7 linked regions of the Homo sapiens genome follow. The gene in region 2 interacts genetically with the main gene of each other region. Each region holds a gene or a part of one and is shown on either strand. Other genes may lie near its edges.

Region 1 (3,500 bases), on a different chromosome or scaffold from region 2:
CGGGTTCAAGCAATTCTCCTGCCTTAGCCTCCCGAGCAGCTGGGATTACAGGCGCACACCACCATGCCCGGCTAATTTTTTTGTATTTTTAGTAGAGCTGGGATTTCACCATATTGGTCAGGCTGGTCTCAAACTCTTGATCAGGGTGATCCACCCGCCTCAGCCTCCCAAAATGCTGGGATTACAGGCGTGAGCCACCGCGCCCAGCTTCCAATAATAATTTTATATTTTAACTGACTTTTGGAAGCAAACTTGCAAGAAGCAGTATAGGTAAAAGAAAATCATCGCTGCCATTATGCAAGTTGTTTCCCTTACACATATATGTTGTTTTGAAACATTTTGGTTCATGTCAGTCTTACTATATGTCAGTCTTACCATATCTCCCTGATCAAAGATAAAGGAAGATGTGATGATCTAGAATGGAAGCAATTTGTTTTAGACTACTGGGAAAATTTTGTTTTGTCCAATTATGCTTTTAATATTTTTATTTTATTTATTTATTTTTTTGAGACGGAGTTTCACTCTTGTTGCCCAGGCTGGAGTGCATTGGCACAATCTCAGCTTACCACAACCTCTGCCTCCCAGGTTCAAGCGGTTCTCCTGCTTCAGCCTCCCGAGTAGCTGGGATTACAGGCATGCATCACCATGCCCGGCTAATTTTGTATTTTTAGTAGAGACAGGGTTTCTCCATATTGGTCAGGCTGGTCTCGAACTCCCGAACTCAGGTAATCCGCCTGCCTCAGCCTCCGAAAGTGTTGGGATTACAGGCGTGAGCCACAGTGCCCGGCACTTTTAATGTTTTTATTTTAATTAATTAATTAATTTATTTATTTATTTATTTATTTTGAGACAGATTTTCGCTCTGTCGCCAGCCTGGAGTGCAGTGGCGCAATCTCTGCTCACTGCAACCTTGGCTTACTGCAACCTCCGCCTCCTGGGTTCAAGTGATTCTCCTCCCTCAGCCTCCCAAGTAGCTGGGAATACAAGCATGTACCACCACACCCAGCTAATTTTTGTATTTTTAGTAGATACAGGGTTTTACCATGTTGGCCAGGATGGTCTTGATCTCCTGACCTCGTGATCTGCTGCCTCGGCCTCCCGAAGTGCTGGGATTACAGGCGTGAGCCACAGCACCCGGCCTTTGTTGGTTTTTTGTTTTGTCACACATTGAGGCCTTAGCAGGTTAGGCTTTAGTAAAAAGTCATGAGAATTAATGACATTTGGGTTTCAACTTAAAATGATCTGCCCCATAGATTCCCAGATTTTATTTCCAAAGCCTTTCTTAAGAAGACAATTAATTAAACATGCAATAATATCTTTAGGAGTTTCTAAAAAGTCTATTGGAAATCATTTTATAATAAAGATATTAGGAGCCCTCATGTTTTTGAAACGTTCTAAAAGTTATTTTGGTAAATCATTTTCTCCACTTTATTTGTTTTGTAAATCCTAAGCCTTATGTGTTGGGAATTTGTTTAGTACTTTATTTTAAACTTTACAACTTTATTATAAACTGAGGATGCAAGGAACAACATATTTTTCTGGGCTCTGCCATTTAACTCTCTAGCTAACAAATTTAGGTTTTGGTGAAGCATGCTTGTTGCTTTTAACTTCCTGATGGATATAACCCACCTTTACTATGGAGTATGACTTCTTTTTTTTTTTTTTTTTTGAGACGGAATTTTGCTGTTGTTGCCCAGGCTGGAGTGCAGTGGCACAATCTCGGCTCACCGTAACCTCTGCCTCCTGGGTTCAAGCGATTCTCCTGCCTCAGCCTCCCAAGTAGCTGGGATTACAGGCGCCCACCACAACGCCTGGCTAATTTTGTATTTTTAGTAGAGACGGGGTTTCTCCATGTTGGTCAGGCTAGTCTCGAACTCCCAATGTCAGGCGATCCACCCATCTTGGCCTCCCAAAGTGCTGGGATTACAGGCGTGAGCCACCGCACCTGGCCAAGCATGACTGCCTTATCCTGTTTTCACTTTATCAAAGATTAAATTCAAAATTCTGAAAGTAATCATTGTGAGTATGGCTGTTTCTTTTCCAATGTGGGAAAAAAATAGTGACCCATCTTTTTTCAGATGAATAAGTAGTAGATAATTTTATTGTTATATGATTCAGATATGTTTTCATGTAGGATTTAGTTTAATCTATTTTTTTTTTTTTTGAGATGTAGTCTCACTCTGTCGCCCAGGCTGGAGTGCAGTGGCTTACTGTAAGCTCCACCTCCCAGGTTCATGCCATTCTCCTGCCTCAGCCTCCTGAGTAGCTGGGACTACAGGTGCCTGCCACCACGCCTGGCTAATTTTTTGTATTTTTTAGTAGAGATGCGGTTTCACCGTGTTAGCCAGGATGGTCTCGATCTGCTGACCTGGTGATCTGCCCGCCTCAGCCTCCCAAAGTGCTGAGATTACAGGTGTGAGCTACCGTGCCCAGCCAGTTTAATCTATTTTTTAAATGAACTTTATTTCTTTAGAGTAGTTTAAGATTTACAGAAAAATTGTGAAGATAGCGCAAAGAAGTCTCATATATCCCTGCATCCAGTTTCTCCTATTGTTAACATCTTACATTAATGTGGTACAGTTGTTACAGTTAATGAGCCAATATTGATACATAATTATAAACTGGAGTCCATACTTTATTTAGATTTACTTAGTCTACCTAATGTCCATTTTCTGTTCCAGGATCTTACTCATTATACCATCTTACATTTAGTCCTGTCTCCTTGGGGTGCCTCTTGATTGGGCTGGTTTCTCAGACTGTCCTCGTTTTTGATGGCACTTAATCTATTTTACAATTGATAAGTTACAGTTCTTCATAGTTTGTTTTATTGATCTGTTTTCCTCCATATACTACTGTAGTCCATTCATTTAAAACTGGCTTTTTATTTTTCCAGTAGGAAATCCATGAAGTCCAGAAGTAGAAGTCCTGCATATTCAAGACATTCATCTTCTCATAGTAAAAAGAAGAGATCCAGTTCACGCAGTCGTCATTCCAGTATCTCACCTGTCAGGCTTCCACTTAATTCCAGTCTGGGAGCTGAACTCAGTAGGAAAAAGAAGGAAAGAGCAGCTGCTGCTGCTGCAGCAAAGATGGATGGAAAGGAGTCCAAGGGTTCACCTGTATTTTTGCCTAGAAAAGAGAACAGTTCAGTAGAGGCTAAGGATTCAGGTTTGGAGTCTAAAAAGTTACCCAGAAGTGTAAAATTGGAAAAATCTGCCCCAGATACTGAACTGGTGAATGTAACACATCTAAACACAGAGGTAAAAAATTCTTCAGATACAGGGAAAGTAAAGTTGGATGAGAACTCCGAGAAGCATCTTGTTAAAGATTTGAAAGCACAGGGAACAAGAGACTCTAAACCCATAGCACTGAAAGAGGAGATTGTTACTCCAAAGGAGACAGAAACATCAGAAAAGGAGACCCCTCCACCTCTTCCCACAATTGCTTCTCCCCCACCCCCTCTACCAACTACTACCCCTCCACCTCAGACACCCCCTTTG
Region 2 (3,408 bases):
GAGATAGGGTCTCACTGTGTTGCCCAGGTTGGTCTCAAACTCCTGGCCCCAAGCAATCCTCCTGCCTTGGCCTCCCAAAGTGGTGGGGATTACAGGCGTGAGCCAAGACGCCTGGCCTCAAATCTTAAAACCCAGCCTAGTTTAGTGAGAATTAAAATCCTCCCCACTTTAAGGGCCAGGCGCCTGTAATCCCAGCACTTTGGGAGGCCAAGGCAGGCAGATCACCTGAGGTCAGGAGTTCGAGACCAGCCTGGCCAACTTAGTGAAACCCCGTCTCTACTAAAAATACAAAAAATTAGCTGGGTGTGGTGGTGCATGCCTGCAGTCCCAGCTACACAGGAGGCTGAGGCAGGAGAATCGCTTGATCCCAGGGGGCGGAGGTTGCATTGAGCCGAGATCGCGCCACTGTACTCCAGCCTGGGTAACAGAGCAAGACTCCATCTTAAAAACAAAAACAAAACCTCCCCACTTTAAAGTTTTCTGTGACTCAGTACAAATCAGAAAGTTATGAATCATATTATATTCACTTAATAATTTGAAGATATTTTAAATTACATCATGCTACATTTCTAGCAAGTCACATGCATAACATGCAATGTGATATTCATATTCAATCAAAATGTGCCCTCTGCTTTTATAATAGTACATTATACACACTATACATTTTATAGTATAGCAATAATAGAGATAAAATATTAGAAAACAGGCATCACAAGGATTTAGACAATTAAGGTAAGCTCAGAGTGACTTTTAATATGCCAATCAATGTTAATAAAACACAAGTCAAAGACAAGTGCAAACATGTTTTAGACCAAAATTAATGAGAAAACAAACAGACAATTTTTTTCAACATCTGTTAGCCAGTATTATTAGTCAAATGGCTAATCACAGATAAAATATATTTTGTGAAAAACTTGGAATGTCAGAAGTCATTCTGGCATTTCAAACAGCTATGTACAGTATCACGAAGATCGGTTTATATACACAAATATTGAAGAGAAAAACCGGGCAAAACATTTAAAAACAGACTAATAATACAATCAAGTATAAAACTTAGGGGGAGACATTTAAAAAGAGTCCGGGAAGGACATTACCAGAACAAGTTACAAAACCAGTAATTATTATACTACATTAATACAGCATTCCAAAGGAGGGAAAGGGTGCATTTTTCCAATGCACTAGCTTCAAAGTTCAAAGGAAAAAAAAAAAAAGGCAAATAGCTGCTTTTCATCAAAAGCAGCTATACATTTCACATAATTGTTTCAAAAAGAAGACCTATTAACAACAATGATTGTTTAATGCTACAAGTTTACAGCAAAGACAAAACTAAAATAGCAGCAAATTCACAAGGCAATACCTCCACAGAATCATCATCCCATGGTTCATGCAATGCCTACAAAGTGCTCCCAGTGGGATATACAAGTCTAATTCACAATTAAAAAAAAAAGAAATATAAGATGGACACACAGGTACATTGAAGGCTGAGTAGTAATGAGTCTTTTAGCATGTCCCTTTTCAAAGGGAGGGTATGTCTGTAATAAAGCCCTTGAGTACTTTTTACAGGTCACTACAGGGAAAGACACCTTTTATTACAATGCAACAGCAAACTATAAGCAGCACACCACCACAGTGGTTAACCCTGGAAAGGCTGGTGTAACATCCAACAGTGACACATCCTACAGAAGACAGACTGGTAAGATTAGATGAAAGCCTGACATAGCAATCATCAAAATACAGCTTTCAACTGTAATTCACAATAAAAGTCCTAATCAGTAAAACTACTGACACCAATCGAGAAAGTAATTGCAAACTGGATTCTATCAGTGATTTCAACCTAGCTTCCTCTTGTCACAGTGTTCAGGGGGAGGTGGGAAAGGAGTAGCTCAGTATATAGTAAGGCTGACAGAGCGGTTCATTTTCTTTCCAATAAGTCGAGATGTTCTATTACTCTGGGTGGTGGACCTAGTGGCCATCCGGTCAGTGAAGAGTGCTCTTTCCTCAGCTGCAGCTTTTGCCATCTGTGCTTTCTTGAGTTCTCTGACATAAAAATAGAAAACAAGGTATTATTCCTAGGAAGAGATTCTAAGAAACTAACACAAACTATATTGTCGATTGGGAGATATTTGCATGCCATCATTATTCTAAGATGTAATTGAAAAATAAAACAGGAAACTGAAGCTTCTATTAAAACAACTTAAATTTATGAAATTATTTTATTTTATGCTTTTTGAATTACAGTATCACACATACTTGAAAACAAGTAGTAAAGATGCTAGTAATGACTTTGGTTCTTATAAAATAATTTGAGCTGGATGTGGTGACTCACACCTGTAGTCTCAGCTACTCGGGAAGCTGAGGCTGGAGGATCGCTTGGGCCCAGGAGTTTGAGGCTGCAGTGAGCTATGATAGTGCCACTGCACTCCAGCCTGGGTGACAGAGCAAGACCCCATCTTTTTAAATAAATAATAATAAACAATTTCCAGACAAACCTATCCCCAATAAAAAAAAAATTAAAAATAAATAATAATTTCAAAAACTCCAATTTATATTGCGAATCTATCCTTACATAAGAGAGATGAAAGGAACACTTTATTTCCTATTTGTATGAACTATGATGGATATCAAACTAGTGGCAAGTAAACCTCTTAATATACAATTCTTATAATTTAAATATTAAATGTTAATATTAATTGTTAACATAACCTTTTCAAGTCAGTTTTATTAGGTTAAAAGCAAAATGGCTGCAATAAATCAAAAGAATTAGAAATGTGATCTGTGGTAACTTAATATTCTCCAATATTCTCTTTTTAATAACCTTTACCATTGCAACCAGCTTTTTGAAAATATCAAGTCATTAAGTCCAATATGAGAATCTTCATTCAGTATATAAAGATTTAGCCAGAAATTAAAAACATATATATGAGAATCATCTCCTAACCAAATTGACATTAATTTCATCCTTTCATAAAATAAGAACAGAATGTTTCAAGGACAACGTTAACTTTTGGTGAGAGTCTGGGAAGAAAAGATTGGTATAGGCTCGCTTAGCTTTTACTACCATTTATGGCTTGGGGACTATCACCACTTGCAAATATATGTTAGTCTCAACATTTTTAAAGTTCGTAATTTGAAAGTTTAGAAACAACACAAATTTAATAGGCCAAATACTAATTCATGGCAGAAGTCCCCAAGCTTTCACCGTATAACAACATATCGAACTACTGGAGCCGGGTGAGGTGGCTCACTCCTATAATCCCAGCACTTTGGGAGGCCAAGACAGGTGGATGGTTTGAGCCCAGGAGTTCAAGACCAGCCTGGGCAACATGGCAAAAACCCCATCTCTACAAAAAATATAAAAATTAGCTGGGTGTTGTGGCATGCATCTGTGGCTCAGCTACTCAGGAGGCT
Region 3 (2,826 bases), on a different chromosome or scaffold from region 2:
ATTTTCCTTCCTCCCTTTCACTATAAGCAATGAATACATAAACTTTTTCTTTTAATTGTAACTTTCCATTTCTGAATTGAATAAAACAACAAAATTAAAGCATTGTAGAGATCTAGGGAAGGTAGAAAAATGAGTTCATTCAATGTTGCTAATCAGCAGTGCCACCTAGTGACATTACCCACTGAAGGTCTTACAAATAACCTTCCCCAATGGTCTGCATAGAATATTTGGCGTCTGAATTCCATTAAAATCAAAATAAGTTTGAACTACTACTTCTCGATACATTTCAAATAAAATGAGGCATAATAGATCTAGTTTTGAAAGAACTATGACACCATACAAGTTATATAGTACCTTTCCACACAATTTCAAATATTTTGAGATTTTACTAAAACCATATTCAAAAGAAATTTGCTGTTCTCAAACACTGATCCACTTGTCTCTTAAAAATGGTTTAGCTTTTTAATTTTGCATTCAAAATGATATTATTATTCCTTAAACACTTACCTATATGAGGATTGAGAGCTGTCACCAACATTAGAGACTCATTCATCAGCTTGTTGATCCTTTCTGTATTGGCCTGGATTCCCACCACGCAGTTTTCTGTAAAGGAAACTGAAGCATCCCCCAGCAGCCTGGCTGAGTGTAACACATTTTTAATCTTTGAGTGAGTGAGAGAGAGAGAGAGAGAGAGAGAGAGAGAGAGAGAGACATTACTAAGGCAACATGTTTTTTGTCCAATAACATATTATTTTCTGGTTGACAGTAAATATACAATTCAATAAACATATAGATCTTCTACAAATTTTAAGGCACTATAACCAAGGAAACAAATGTGAAAGAAAGCATGAACATTTGAAGGCACAGAAATCTAAAAAAGGTGAAAAAGACATAAATACAAATGACTAAAACACAAAATAGCCCATAGCAAGTATTTAAAACAGAGGTCTGAAGTGTTAGAGACCATAGAGAAAGAGAAATTAACTCCAGTTGTCGGAACTGGTGAAATCCTATTTTATGGAGAGGACTTGGCCAGAGAAGGAAAAAGAATCTTCCACGCAGAAGGAAGAGGAGCAAAGATGCAGAGGTTCGAAAGTTCAGTATGAGTGTGAGGCAATTAGTAAAGTCAGGGCAAAATCTAATGATCACCAAATTTCTAGGTTTTCTATGCTTTAACGAATACTCCAGTCACTGTAAAATAACTTTTCATATAATATTAAAAAACAGTATAAAATCAATTAGTTTGTTTTGGCTTTGTTGGCAACATTTCCAATATTTATTAAGATATATCCAAATCCTAATATCCTCTGGTCTAAAACTCCGGTCTGAAAACTAGACTTCCAACAATGGACTCTAAGACATATAATCTAAGTTTTAATTTGCTACTAATGACCTTGTAATAAGGCAAATATTGATTATCTTTATTTTACATTAAAAATAAAATTTTAAAAAGATTAACAAGGCATTTATTGTTATGCACCTATAAATGCTGGGTATCTCGTGTTAACTGTTTGGAATCTGACCTGAGAGCAAAATTTTAACAGTCTGAGTTCTGCTCTGGCCTGTGTTTTTATTTACCACTAGGATATACATTCCATGAGAGCAAGAAATCTGTCTTTTCATTGCTCTATCTCTATTATGCATCCAGTACAGTGCCTGATAGAAAATGGTACTCAATAAATATTTAGTGAATATATTAAATATACTCCATATTTGTCATTTGCATATTCTTATAAAATTAAAATTAGAATTTAGAAGAGATTCCAAGAGAAAGTAAGCCCCTACTCTACTTTAGCTATAACACTTTGTCCAAATGAAGGACTCTAAATTATGGCAACAGCTCCACTATCTGCAGCTGAGGAAACTGATGAGAAATGGCGCGATGCATCTATCGATCTTCGTAAAGACGAAAGAAAAAGAACGGTTTGGGTGGACACAATGTTTTCAAGTATGTGGAAAGGTAAAGCCAGACAATGAAACGAAGTCTGACAGGGGGCAGAAGAAGAACTGGTGAAAAAATGTTCAAGAAAGCAGGGATGAAGAATGTTTCAAGGAGGGACAGTCAACATCAACTATTAGTAAGGGAAGAACTAACTGCGCAATGCCAGCTGGACTGAGGTAGTCACCAATGAATGGGAGAATAATTCAAGCGTGGAGGGGGCCATGCTGGGCTGTGGTGACTACAGCATAAATGAAAGTGAGTATGTGCTATCCTTCCAAGAAGACTGAATTTGAAGAAGAAAGCAGCAGCATGAGAAGGAGACAGGCTTGTAGGGAGGCATTTTATTTTTCTTAAACGGGCTATTAAAAAAAACATCAAATTGCTTAGGTTAAAAGTCAACTAATTTCTATTATCTAGGATTATTCTGGTAACTTAATAAATGCTTGACTTCCAACTGCTACTTATGTCACCCAACTACCCAATGTGGAATCACTAGAAGTCTTTATGAAATACAAAACCAAGATAATAAGCCTTTGGTCAAAAAACATTAAAAATCAGATTTAAAGCTTACCATCATTGGCTTGAAAACATTCAACTCAAAATGTCCATTGCTGCCTCCGACAGTGACAGCAACATGGTTCCCCATGACTTGGGCTGCAACCATGGTCATTGCTTCACACTGAGTAGGGTTCACCTTGCCTTCAAGAAAACCACCAATGACAGAGTAAAGACTAAATTTATGCAAATAATCAGGAGAATAAAGAAATCTAATTTCACTAAATAGAGTAAGATATACAATAAAGCAAGGCCCAACCATCAGTGTAATTTAATGAAACAAACCAACCAAGGAAGGTGGGATGGGTAGCCACAAAATGAATCATTCA
Region 4 (3,500 bases), on a different chromosome or scaffold from region 2:
AATTAAATATAAGCATAAAGTCTTGTATTATAAATTAGATTTAGATTCTGAAGATCGTCTTATATTCTACCTGCTTATGAGAAGCTTCTCGAACATTGAGTATTTTTCCTCTAAGAGGGAAAACCCCATATTTGTCTCTCCCAACCACACCAAGGCCTGAAACAGCCAAAGTTTTGGCTGAATCTCCCTCAGTCAGGATAAGCGTACACTCAGTGGAGTTTCGGCCCCCTAAAATAAAAATATACATATTAATATTAGCACATTTAGTTCAACCTCAAATATACTAACTTGAACATGCTGTTTATAGCCTTGTGATAAAACACAATTTACTATATAATGAGCAAAATTATTTGTTAGGTAATAGATCATAATATAAACATTCTTGTTTTATACTCCAAAATAATCACCTCAATATTATTTATAACATGGAAATGACCTAAATCTTCCATAATAGGAAACGGGCCGATTTTTAACAAGTTATTCTGTTGAATATAGTTATTCTGTCAAGGGAAAAATAAATATCCGTGGTATGCCATTAATGAATAAAATAACAACTATAAGACTTAAAAGTTTGGAAACATTATTAAATATATACCTGCATCATTGGCATCATCGAGTTTGGGAATTCCCTTGATTCTATTATGTTTTACAGCTGAACACTTCTTGTTTAACTGGACTTGGGCCTTAAACTTCACCCAGTTTAGTATGCTTTCTACAATACCACAGCCAATGGCCTGAAAACGAGAAGATTCATATTAGGGATCATATTAGGGAAGAAGGGATCTATCAGAAATCTAGAATACAAATGAGCCTTAATACAAATAAAAATGATTCAAAAATTAAAAAGATGTAGAACAATAATTTCTGGATAGAGGGTGGCACATCTTCCCATGTCAGGTTATCACCACTGAGGGAGCTGCTCCTTTTGGTTCATTCGTTCAATAAATATTTACTATATAATTATATTGTGCTAGCACTGAGCTACTTGTTGGAGATATAGTGGTTAAAACAAATTAGACCAGGCACGGTGGCTCACGCCTATAATCCCAGCACTTTAGGAGGCCAAGGTGGGCAGAACACCTGAGGTCAGGAGTTTGAGACCGGCCTGGCCAACATGGCGAAACCCCGGCTCTACTAAAAATACAAAAATTAGCTGGCGTGGTGGTGGGCACCTGTAATTCCAGCTACTCGGGAGGCTGAGGCAGGAGAATCGCTTGAACCCAGGAGGTAGAGGTTGCAGCGAGCCAAGATCGCACCATTGCACTCCAGCCTGGGTGACAAAAGTGAAACTCCGTCTCAAAAAAAAAAAAAAAAAAAAAAAAAAGGGTAGCCAGGCATGGTGGTGGTGAAATGGCTGTAATCCTAGCTGCTTGGGAGGCTGAGGCAGGAGAATTGCTTTAACCTGGGAGGCGCGGGTTGCAGTGAACTGAGATCAAGCCACGGCACTCCAGCCTGGGAAACAGTGAGAAGCTGTCTCCAAAAAAAAAAATTAAAAATAAATAAATAAAATTAGACACAAATAAAACAAATTGAGACACTTGTCCTCATCAAGTTTAAGACACAACATAGAAGACAGACATAGCTGGGTGCAGTGGCTTACGCCTGTAATCACAGCACTTTAGGAGGCCGAGGATGGTGGATCAAGTGAGGCCAGGAGTTCAAGACCAGCCTGGCCAACATGGTAAAACCCCATCTCTATTAAAAATACAAAAATTAGCTGGATGTGATGGTGCATGTCTGTAATCCCCGCTACTCAGGAGGCTGGAGAATCCCAGCTACTCAGGAGGCAAGGAGAATCGCTTGAACCTGGGAGGCAGAGATTGCAATGAGCCAGGATTACGTCACTGCACTGTAGCCTGGGCAACACAGCAAGACTCTGTCTCAAAAAAAAAAAAAAAAAAGACTGGGCACAGTGGCTCATGGCTGTAATCCCAACACTTTGGAAGGCCGAGATGGGTGGATCATTTGAGGTCAGGAGTTTGAGACCAGCCTGACCAACATGGTGAAACCCTGTCTCTACTGAAAATACAACAACAAAAAAATTAGCCAGGCATGGTGATGCATGCCTGTAATCTCAGCTACTCGGGAGGCTGAGGCAAGAGAATCACTGAAACCTAGGAGGCGGAGGTTGCAGTGAGCCGAGATCGTGCCACTGCATTCCAGCCTGGGCGACAGAGCGAGACTCTGCCTAAAAAAAAAGACAGAAATAAAATAAGTTACAGTGTTATAAGTGTTATGGATAAGCAAAAAGTTTGCTAATAAGGTATGTTCAATATTATATTGGAACCAACTTAGGTGGGGGGAAGGGTAGAAAGTAAAGGCTTTCCTGAGGAAAGGACAAGACCTAAAGTAGCCAGGTGAAAAGGATGTATTTCATGCAGAGGGATTAGCATGTGAATAAACTCTGAGGAGGGGAAGAGCACTGTGCTTTTCAGTAATTTAAAAGCAACAGGACAATATACGAAAAACTGGCACTGAGATGAGTTGGAGAAGTAGGTGTAATTAGATTACAGCAGATCTTTCTTGTTGGCCAAATTATGGAATTTGGACTTTCCCTGAGTGGAAGTCATTGAAAGATTTCAAATGAGAGTGAAGATAAAAATGGGTGTTTTAACACAAAAGTCACTCAAAAGCATTCCAAGGAAAGGACTTAACCAGTATGAAGGTTAAGAACCTATTGTAGTAAACCAAAAAAGAGATAATGGTGAGAAGCTACTGCAGCATCCAAGAGATGATTCTTATTGACCGGATTAGAGAGGAGGGGAAATAAAGGAAGGCTCCCAGCTTTCTTGTTTATACAACCTAGAGGTTGGTTGGGGCTTTTTACTAAGATAGGAAGTTGTTTTTTTGTTGGAGAGTGGGGGGCTGCTTGTATGGGCAAATCAGTGAGTATGGAGGTAACAAATTCAATTTTGGATGTGTTGACTGAAAGCAAGTCTTAGGCATTTAAGTGAGGGTGTTTGTTAAACAGCTAGATTAATTCAAAAGTGATCTAAGCTTAATGGTAAAATGTAATTGGGAAATACTGAAATATAGACGGTCATTAAGTCTTTGGTAAATCAGTTAAAGTAAAGCCCTTTTTTACTTCCTTTTCAGATTGGGAAGACTTGGAGAAGCTCACTATGAGAAGAATCATTGTTTCTGCAGAGCTAAGAAGTGCAATGGAAAATAAAGTCAGGTGTTTCTATTTTTATTTTCCTCTAAGTACTCACAGCTTTGATAAATTTTTCACTCAATTGGCATGTTGATCCAAAGCTCTTGGGTTGTAAAGTCATGTTTTCTTTTGTCTGAGAGTCAAAGGTTGGGTTTTCAATTAAGGCATTTACAAAAATCCACATGTGATTTTTCACCTGCAATAGAAGTTGATATTAAGCCACTAAAAATGTACTCATGCTTTATTTATAGCCTTTCTCTTCTTCCTTGACTTTAGAAAAAGAAAACTGCCAAAAGCACATACCTGATGTGCTTTTACTGCAACACCACCCTTGTTCTTCTTCTTC
Region 5 (3,330 bases), on a different chromosome or scaffold from region 2:
AATGCATTTTTTTTTCCCGTAAAGGCAGAATCCATCTTGTTGCAGATAGCTATCTAAATAATCTCATATCCTCTTTTGCAAAGACTACAGAGAATAGGCTATGACAATCTTGTTCAAGCCTTTCCATTTTTTTCCCTGATAACTAAGTAATTTCTTTGAACATACCAAGAAGTATGTAAAAAGTCCATGGCCTTATTCATCCACAAAGTGGCATCCTAGGCCCAGCCTTATCCCTAGCAGTTGTCCCAGTGCTGCTAGGTTGCTTATCTTGTTTATCTGGAATCACTGTGGAGTGAAATTTTCCACATCATCCAGAATTGCCTTATTTAAGAAGTAAAACGTTTTAATTTTTAGCCTTTTTTTGGTGGAGTTATTTAATATGTATATCAGAGGATATACTAGATGGTAACATTTCTTTCTGTGCTTGGCTATCTTTGTGGACTTCAGGGGCTTCTAAAACAGACAGGACTGTGTTGCCTTTACTAAATGGTCTGAGACAGCTATGGTTTTGAATTTTTAGTTTTTTTTTTTTAACCCACTTCCCCTCCTGGTCTCTTCCCTCTCTGATAATTACCATTCATATGTGAGTGTTAGTGTGCCTCCTTTTAGCATTTTCTTCTTCTCTTTCTGATTCTTCATTTCTGACTGCCTAGGCAAGGAAACCAGATAACCAAACTTACTAGAACGTTCTTTAAAACACAAGTACAAACTCTGGGACAGGACCCAAGACACTTTCCTGTGAAGTGCTGAAAAAGACCTCATTGTATTGGCATTTGATATCAGTTTGATGTAGCTTAGAGTGCTTCCTGATTCTTGCTGAGTTTCAGGTAGTTGAGATAGAGAGAAGTGAGTCATATTCATATTTTCCCCCTTAGAATAATATTTTGAAAGGTTTCATTGCTTCCACTTGAATGCTGCTCTTACAAAAACTGGGGTTACAAGGGTTACTAAATTAGCATCAGTAGCCAGAGGCAATACCGTTGTCTGGAGGACACCAGCAAACAACACACAACAAAGCAAAACAAACCTTGGGAAACTAAGGCCATTTGTTTTGTTTTGGTGTCCCCTTTGAAGCCCTGCCTTCTGGCCTTACTCCTGTACAGATATTTTTGACCTATAGGTGCCTTTATGAGAATTGAGGGTCTGACATCCTGCCCCAAGGAGTAGCTAAAGTAATTGCTAGTGTTTTCAGGGATTTTAACATCAGACTGGAATGAATGAATGAAACTTTTTGTCCTTTTTTTTTCTGTTTTTTTTTTTCTAATGTAGTAAGGACTAAGGAAAACCTTTGGTGAAGACAATCATTTCTCTCTGTTGATGTGGATACTTTTCACACCGTTTATTTAAATGCTTTCTCAATAGGTCCAGAGCCAGTGTTCTTGTTCAACCTGAAAGTAATGGCTCTGGGTTGGGCCAGACAGTTGCACTCTCTAGTTTGCCCTCTGCCACAAATTTGATGTGTGACCTTTGGGCAAGTCATTTATCTTCTCTGGGCCTTAGTTGCCTCATCTGTAAAATGAGGGAGTTGGAGTAGATTAATTATTCCAGCTCTGAAATTCTAAGTGACCTTGGCTACCTTGCAGCAGTTTTGGATTTCTTCCTTATCTTTGTTCTGCTGTTTGAGGGGGCTTTTTACTTATTTCCATGTTATTCAAAGGAGACTAGGCTTGATATTTTATTACTGTTCTTTTATGGACAAAAGGTTACATAGTATGCCCTTAAGACTTAATTTTAACCAAAGGCCTAGCACCACCTTAGGGGCTGCAATAAACACTTAACGCGCGTGCGCACGCGCGCGCGCACACACACACACACACACACACACACACACAGGTCAGAGTTTAAGGCTTTCGAGTCATGACATTCTAGCTTTTGAATTGCGTGCACACACACACGCACGCACACACTCTGGTCAGAGTTTATTAAGGCTTTCGAGTCATGACATTATAGCTTTTGAGTTGGTGTGTGTGACACCACCCTCCTAAGTGGTGTGTGCTTGTAATTTTTTTTTTCAGTGAAAATGGATTGAAAACCTGTTGTTAATGCTTAGTGATATTATGCTCAAAACAAGGAAATTCCCTTGAACCGTGTCAATTAAACTGGTTTATATGACTCAAGAAAACAATACCAGTAGATGATTATTAACTTTATTCTTGGCTCTTTTTAGGTCCATTTTGATTAAGTGACTTTTGGCTGGATCATTCAGAGCTCTCTTCTAGCCTACCCTTGGATGAGTACAATTAATGAAATTCATATTTTCAAGGACCTGGGAGCCTTCCTTGGGGCTGGGTTGAGGGTGGGGGGTTGGGGAGTCCTGGTAGAGGCCAGCTTTGTGGTAGCTGGAGAGGAAGGGATGAAACCAGCTGCTGTTGCAAAGGCTGCTTGTCATTGATAGAAGGACTCACGGGCTTGGATTGATTAAGACTAAACATGGAGTTGGCAAACTTTCTTCAAGTATTGAGTTCTGTTCAATGCATTGGACATGTGATTTAAGGGAAAAGTGTGAATGCTTATAGATGATGAAAACCTGGTGGGCTGCAGAGCCCAGTTTAGAAGAAGTGAGTTGGGGGTTGGGGACAGATTTGGTGGTGGTATTTCCCAACTGTTTCCTCCCCTAAATTCAGAGGAATGCAGCTATGCCAGAAGCCAGAGAAGAGCCACTCGTAGCTTCTGCTTTGGGGACAACTGGTCAGTTGAAAGTCCCAGGAGTTCCTTTGTGGCTTTCTGTATACTTTTGCCTGGTTAAAGTCTGTGGCTAAAAAATAGTCGAACCTTTCTTGAGAACTCTGTAACAAAGTATGTTTTTGATTAAAAGAGAAAGCCAACTAAATCATTATGTGCTCATTCTTTTTCTTAAGCTTGTGGATGTCTTGGATCTGGAAAGGGTTTCTGATCACTTAGAGAATTTTCAAACTTTAGGTCAACATTTTCCTTTATTGCCTTGTGGCCACTGAAATGGGAAATGTGACATTTAAAATATGACCCTGGAATAACAGTCCCCATTCTTCTCTCATTTTTAAAAGGAGAAGGTGAAGTGATGGTGATCAGAGAGATGGGTGCTAGGGAATTATAAGAACCAGGATGCTTAAAGGAGAGGTAAAATTGGAAATTGGAGACCCTTTCATTGCCCAGCTAAGGGATAAGGAAAGCTGTTTCTCTCCCATCTGCCTTCTCTGTGAAATAGGGGTCAATGGGAGGGGAGTGGTGGTCAGGTAAGTAGATTCCGTGGCAATGGCTTGTATATAACAAGACCACATCAGCATTTTATTTCTAAGCTTGCTGACATGAGTTTCAGAGAGTTTATCGGGCTGAGAGATTTCTTCTCACCTG
Region 6 (3,500 bases), about 120 Mb from region 2:
AAGAAAGTAAGAGAATAAGACATGCAAATAAGTCCCATGGGAAAAAGCATTTTCAGACATAGGAACAGTCACTACAAAAACAGTGAGGTAGAAGTGTGCCTAGAGCACTTGGAGAACAATAAGAAGAACAACAATATGACCAAGGGGGAGCAAAGCAGAACTGAGGTTGGAGAGGTAATGTAAGGAACAAAATTGTGTAAGAACTCACAGGTCATGAACTGATTTTAGCTTACACTACACGTGAGAACTAAAGCATTGGAGGATTTGGGTAGAATAGTGATATATTCTAATTCACTTTTAAATCAGAACATTTTGGAAAGATATCATGGTAATTTGGAATGATAGGGTAACAGTAGAGGTAAAAAAAAAAAAGGTAATCAGATTCTAAGATTTTTTTAAAGATAGAGGTTAACAGAATTAGCTGGTGTACTGGATGTGAAGTAAAAGAGAATGAGAAAAATGAAGGATGATTCCAAAGTTTCTGATCTGCATAATAAGAATAATGCAGTTGCCATTAACCAACATGGGAAAGACTTTGAAAAGGAATGGGTTTGAAAGGAAAAGATCAGTAACTCAGTTTGGAATTCATCAAGTGTGAGATGCCTCTTAACATTCAAGTGAAATTTCAGAAGGCAGTTAAGACATGTAAGTTTGGAATTCAGAGGAAAGGTCTAGGTTGATATAAATGTGACTATCAACATATAGTTTTATTTAGAGCCATGAAACCAAGTAATATCACTAATGGAGTGAGTGTGGAGAAGAAAACAAAGGAGATCCATAGATTCAGCCCTGGAGAACTCCAATAGTAGGAGGCTGAGCAGATGAAAAAAAACCATCAAGAGACTGAAAAGAGCGACCAGTGAGAAGGACGAAAATCAGAAGAGTGTAACGCCTGGAAGCCAAATGAAGAAAGTGTTTAAAGGAGGAGGGCATGATCAACTGTATAAAATATTGATGAGATAAAACAAGAGGTCTGAGAACTGACTACAGTAGTACCCCCCTTATCCACAGAGGGATATGTTCAAGTGGATGCCTGAAAGTACAAATGGTACCAAACCCTATATATGTTCTTTCGATCTAATAACCAAAACAGCTACTAAGGGAGTTACAAGCAGGTAGCACATGGAACGTGAATACACTGGAAAAAGGAGTGATTCACATCCCAAGTGAGATGAAGTAGGACAGCACAAGATTTTATTATGCTACTCAGAACAGCACACAATTTAAAACCTATGGCAGGGCATTGTGGCTCATGCCTATAATCCCAGTACTTTGGGAGGCCGGGGTGGGTGGATTGCTTAAGCCCAGCAGTTTGAGAACAGCTGGGATTACAGGCGTGAACCACCACACCTGGCTAATTTTTGTATTTTTGGTAGAAAAGCATAGGCAACATGGCGAAACCTCATCTCTACCAAAAATACAAAAATTAGCCGGGCATAGTGGCTCACACCTGTAGTCCCAGCTACTCGGGAAGCTGAGATGGGAGGATCATTTAAGCTCAGGAGGTAGAGGTTTCAGTAAGTGGAGACCACGCCACTGCACTCCAGTCTGGGCGACAGAGCGAGATCCCGTCTCGAATTAAATAAATAAATAAAACCCATGAATTTCTTTTTTTTTTTTTTTGAGACGGAGTCTCGCTGTTGCCCAGGCTGGAGTGCAGTGGTGCGATCTCGGCTCACTGCAAGCTCCGCCCCCCGGGGTTCACGCCATTCTCTTGCCTCAGCCTCCCGAGTAGCTGGGACTACAGGCGACCGCCACCTCGCCCGGCTAATTTTTTGTATTTTTAGTAGAGACGGGGTGACACCGTGTTAGCCAGGATGGTCTCGATCTCCTGACCTCGTGATCCGCCCGCCTTGGCCTCCCAAAGTGCTGGGATTACAGGCGTGAGCCACCGCGCCCGGCCAAAACCCATGAATTGATGAATTGTTTACTTCTGGTACTTTCCATTTAATCTTTTCAGACCTCGGTTGACCACAGTGGACTATTACATTGAACTTGGCAACACGTTCCAAAAATCACTGTGACTCTTGGCAACAAAATAGATGAAATTGAAAACTAGTTTTGAGGTGTTAGAGATGAGAAGCAATTTTAGGAATATTCAATTGTGAAGAAGATGGAATGGTAGGGAAAAGTGGAGTTAAGAGAAATTTTATTACCATTATGATTTGATTTTAAAATGGGAGAAAAAGCATGTAGATATGCTGATGAGAAAGATCCGGTAGAGAAGGAAAAATTAATAATGTAGGAGAGGGAGAAAAATTGCTAGACAAAGTCATTGAGTGGGTAAGAGAAAGACCTGGCTTACATCCAGAGCAATTTATCTACAGCAATACAGGATGAAAGAGAATACATGAGCATAGAGGCAGTTAGTATGGAGGAGATGGTGGTGGGAGCTTGCCTAAGTTCTCTTGTGGCTTTCATTTCCCAGTGACACAGGAAGCAAAGTGAACAACTGAGAGTGAGGATGGAGAGAAGATAATAAAAGTTAAGGGACCAGACACAGTAGCTCACACCTATAAACCCAGCACTTTGGGAGGCTGAGGCAGGGGGATCACTTGAGGCTAGGAGTTTGAGACCAGCCTGGCCAGCATGGCAAAACCTCTACTAAAAATATAAAAATTAGCCAGGTGTGGTGGTTCACACCTGTAATCCCAGCTACTCGGGTGGCTAAGGCACGAGAATCGAATCGCTTGAACCTGAGAGGCAGAGGTTGAAGTGAGTGGAGATGGCGCCACTGCACTCCAGCCTAGACCCTGTCTCAAAAAAAAAAAAAAAAAAAAGAGAAAAGTATTATAAAAACGTGATTTAGGAGAACAGGACAGAGAAAGATGTGGGGAAACGAAGGCCAAATGCCAGGAAGCATTAAGGGCCCACTTGAGATTAGTAATCCTGAATTTAAAGTGAACATTTTTGGGTATTTTTCTCCTGCTGCAATCTGTTGTGCAGGTACAAGTGTGCAGTACGTAGAAAACTACTAGATTAAACCCAGAAACTACTTACTGGGTTTTACCCACTAAGTATGATGAAGAGAGAAGGGGACAAGGAAATTGAAGATGATGAACGCAAAGCAGTCATTTATAATGACTAACCTAAAGATTTAAGATAGGTAAAGATGAAATCAAGGACCTAGAGAGGGAGCAGGTAAGAGACTGAAGAGATAGAATTAATTAATTGCAAGTCCAGATACAAAGGACTGTTTAAGTTAGAATATTAAGGGAGGAAGTCAGAAAAAATTATACTGGTGATCAGTGCAGCGTGTTCAAAGACAACATCACTATAGGAGAGAGGGTCAAGAAACAGTGAAGTCAGGATATCAGGAGGATGATCCAAATAAATATTTAAATCACCAAGAATCATGACGAAAATAACATCAAGAGTCATTTTGCAGACTGTGATAGTACGGCAGAAATTTTAATTTGGGGTTCAAAAGTTAGAGGGGAGAGACATAAAGGAAGATGGGAGAAAGTGACAATGAAGAATAAGGAGGACACCTGTACCAT
Region 7 (2,578 bases), on a different chromosome or scaffold from region 2:
CTCCTGCAGCATGAAACCCCTCACCTCCCGCTCCTGCAGCAGAAACAAAATACTTGGTTCTGTTTATTGTCTCCCTTTCTCATTAGACCTGAGCTCTGGGATACTGTGGGCTTAAGTACTTCTGAAAATTTGTATGGCATCTGCTGGGTGAATTTTCCTAGGGTGCTGGGCTGGTTGTTAGGACAGTCTGGGTGACTGGCCTCATTCATGGCAGGGGCAGCAGGTGGAGAGTGGTCCGGGAAGGATTTGAGGAGCTGCACGGAGTCAGGCCCAGCCTCTGGCCTCCTGATTGCCACCTTTCTCAGGATCTTGGATACTAATTAAGAAACTCTTGACTGCTGGAGGCTGTGATTGACCCACTGAGAGCTTTTAGGCATGTGGATGTGAGTCAGCCAGGATTGATGGAGCATTGACTGCTAATTAGACTCCTCTGGGAAGGTAGAGGCGGGCAACACATAATGCCTTCGCTGTGGGAGCTTCATCAAGGGGATGATTCTTGGACGGACATTTTTCCTCCCTCTTTCCACAGGGGCATGCTAGCCCTGTCATTCTAGGAGTTTATTATCCTTCAGACACAGCTACTTATGTTTTTAATTCCCTCACAGGATGAAGACATGAAGAGAAAGTTTCAAGATCTTCTGTCTGAGGAAAATGAATCCACAGCTCTACCCCAGGTTCTAGCCCAGGTATTCGTATTCCTGATGATCACTAAATGTAGTCTGGGCTTAAGGAGCTGATAAGCAAAGATGATGAAATTCAAGATTTTCCTGAGTAGCAATTGCTTAACATTGTTTCAGTTATAATGTAGTAGAAACTCTGTTTTAACTTGATTCGCTCCAGCACCCTTAGATTTAAAAATGCAGGATATGTTTAATATCTAACACATAATAGACCGATAAGCACAGCTAGGGATTGTCATCCAAAAGGTCACCTGCAAGGCAATTTCGAAAGACTCTATTAGAGGCTCAAATATAAATTTGTTGAACAAATTAAAATTTGGGTCAGTAGTTGATTCCTTGATTACAATTTTATTCTTTAAAGTTCTTTGTGAGTATAAGTTAATTCCAGTCCTGCTTTTTTGTTGTTGTTGTTGTTGTTGAATGGTAGCTGTCCTTTTTCCCACTGTTTCCTCCCCCCAATTTTTTTTTTCTTGAGACAGAGTCTTGGTTTGTCACTCAGGCCGGAGTGCAGTGGTGCAATCTCAGCTCACTGCAACCTCTGCCTCCTGGGTTCAAGCAGTTCTCCTGCCTCAGTCTCCCGAGTATCTGGGATTACAGGTGTCCGCCACTGTGCCCAGCTAATTTTTGAATTTTTAGGTGAGATGGGGTTTTGCCATGTTGGTCAGGCTTGTCTCGAACTTTTGACCTGAAGCGACCTGCCCACCTCGGCTTTCCAAAGTGCTGGGATTACAGCTGTGAGTCACCGCACCCAGCCTTCCTCCCAATTTTATATATGGGAAAACAACTAAGGCACAAAGGTTGTCTTCCCGCAAAAGACCAAGACTTGGGGCTTCAACTGAGAGGTATTATAGTCCTTTTAAACTTGATATTTAGAAGAGGACGATCAAGAGGAAGTTGGTTATGCTACTTGCTTTCAGTATACATCGTTCAGAGGTCAGAAGCCATAAGGGAGAGAAATATCTATTAGATAAGCATGTCTGAGTTGGGGGCTGTGGTGAGGACTCAGTTGTCAATGATGACAACCAGTAATTTTTGGTTCTAGAATTTCACATCAAATGCCCCCACTTTACTGGAAGCATATTGAGGAACTTTGATAATCTTAAAGAAGCCAGTGATTTTCTTTTGAACATTTCTCCATTTTCCTTTATTTTCAGCCTTCTACTAGTCGAAAGCGGCCCCGTGAAGGGGAAGCCGAGGGTGCCGAGACCACAAAGCGCCCAGCTGTGTGTGCTGCTGTGTTGTGAACTCCGTGGTTTGAACACGAAAGAAATGTACCTTCTTTCACTCTGTCATCTTTCTTTTCTTTGAGTCTGTTTTTTTATAGTTTGTATTTTAATTATGGGAATAATTGCTTTTTCACAGTCACTGATGTACAATTAAAAACCTGATGGAACCTGGGCTTTGTGCTTCTGCTTGATAATCGGTTCTTTAGTTGAATGGCTTTATTATTTATTTATTTGAGATGGAGTCTCACTCTGTTGCCCAGCCTGAATGAAGTGCAGTGGTGCAGGCTTGGCTCACTGCAACCTCTGCTTCCCAGGTTCAAGCGATTCTTGTGCCTCAGCCTCCTGAGTAGCTGGGATTACAGGTATGCACCACCATGCCTGTTAATTTTTATATATTTTGTAGAGACAGGGTTTTGCCATGTTGGCCAGCCTGGTCTTGAACTTCTGACCTCAGGTGATCTGTCTGCCTCAGTCTCTTAAAGTGCTGGGATTACACGCATGAGCCACTGAGCCTAGCCTGAATGGCTTTTTTATATTTAAAGTTGTGTGCCTTTCATCTGGAGCTACACCTTGGCTATCACTAGGCAGGTTTCCCAGGATGTCACCCTGGTCTCAGCCTGTGAGAGCTGAATACAAATTCTAAGGGCCCCTTGGAAAGTTCCAGGGAAGGGA

Evidence for each region.
Region 1: changes in WEE1 (region 2) and CDK12 are lethal when combined (synthetic lethality), as found in Homo sapiens cells (one large-scale study listed by BioGRID).
Region 3: changes in WEE1 (region 2) and FH are lethal when combined (synthetic lethality), as found in Homo sapiens cells (one large-scale study listed by BioGRID).
Region 4: changes in WEE1 (region 2) and TOP2A are lethal when combined (synthetic lethality), as found in Homo sapiens cells (one large-scale study listed by BioGRID).
Region 5: changes in WEE1 (region 2) and SMAD4 together harm fitness more than expected from each alone (negative genetic interaction), as found in Homo sapiens cells (one large-scale study listed by BioGRID).
Region 6: changes in WEE1 (region 2) and CHEK1 are lethal when combined (synthetic lethality), as found in Homo sapiens cells (one large-scale study listed by BioGRID).
Region 7: changes in WEE1 (region 2) and CHEK2 are lethal when combined (synthetic lethality), as found in Homo sapiens cells (one large-scale study listed by BioGRID).

The regions. Positions count from the first base shown.
Region 1 is NC_000017.11:39,467,986-39,471,485, forward strand, and holds part of CDK12 (cyclin-dependent kinase 12), read left to right. Parts: intron 1-2,893; coding exon 2,894-3,500. UniProt on the Homo sapiens protein: Cyclin-dependent kinase that phosphorylates the C-terminal domain (CTD) of the large subunit of RNA polymerase II (POLR2A), thereby acting as a key regulator of transcription elongation.
Region 2 is NC_000011.10:9,587,078-9,590,485, reverse strand, and holds the end of WEE1 (wee1-like protein kinase), read right to left. Parts: intron 2,038-3,408; coding exon 1,884-2,037; 3' UTR 501-1,883; downstream 1-500. UniProt on the Homo sapiens protein: Acts as a negative regulator of entry into mitosis (G2 to M transition) by protecting the nucleus from cytoplasmically activated cyclin B1-complexed CDK1 before the onset of mitosis by mediating phosphorylation of CDK1 on 'Tyr-15'.
Region 3 is NC_000001.11:241,499,930-241,502,755, forward strand, and holds part of FH (fumarate hydratase, mitochondrial), read right to left. Parts: intron 2,642-2,826; coding exon 2,514-2,641; intron 662-2,513; coding exon 508-661; intron 1-507. UniProt on the Homo sapiens protein: Catalyzes the reversible stereospecific interconversion of fumarate to L-malate. Experiments in other species have demonstrated that specific isoforms of this protein act in defined pathways and favor one direction over the other.
Region 4 is NC_000017.11:40,407,897-40,411,396, forward strand, and holds part of TOP2A (DNA topoisomerase 2-alpha), read right to left. Parts: coding exon 3,458-3,500; intron 3,351-3,457; coding exon 3,213-3,350; intron 735-3,212; coding exon 596-734; intron 229-595; coding exon 71-228; intron 1-70. UniProt on the Homo sapiens protein: Key decatenating enzyme that alters DNA topology by binding to two double-stranded DNA molecules, generating a double-stranded break in one of the strands, passing the intact strand through the broken strand, and religating the broken strand.
Region 5 is NC_000018.10:51,082,213-51,085,542, forward strand, and holds the end of SMAD4 (mothers against decapentaplegic homolog 4), read left to right. Parts: 3' UTR 1-2,830; downstream 2,831-3,330. UniProt on the Homo sapiens protein: In muscle physiology, plays a central role in the balance between atrophy and hypertrophy. When recruited by MSTN, promotes atrophy response via phosphorylated SMAD2/4.
Region 6 is NC_000011.10:125,638,663-125,642,162, reverse strand, and holds part of CHEK1 (serine/threonine-protein kinase Chk1), read right to left. Parts: intron 1-3,500. UniProt on the Homo sapiens protein: Serine/threonine-protein kinase which is required for checkpoint-mediated cell cycle arrest and activation of DNA repair in response to the presence of DNA damage or unreplicated DNA.
Region 7 is NC_000022.11:28,687,243-28,689,820, reverse strand, and holds the end of CHEK2 (serine/threonine-protein kinase Chk2), read left to right. Parts: intron 1-605; coding exon 606-686; intron 687-1,834; coding exon 1,835-1,924; 3' UTR 1,925-2,078; downstream 2,079-2,578. UniProt on the Homo sapiens protein: Serine/threonine-protein kinase which is required for checkpoint-mediated cell cycle arrest, activation of DNA repair and apoptosis in response to the presence of DNA double-strand breaks.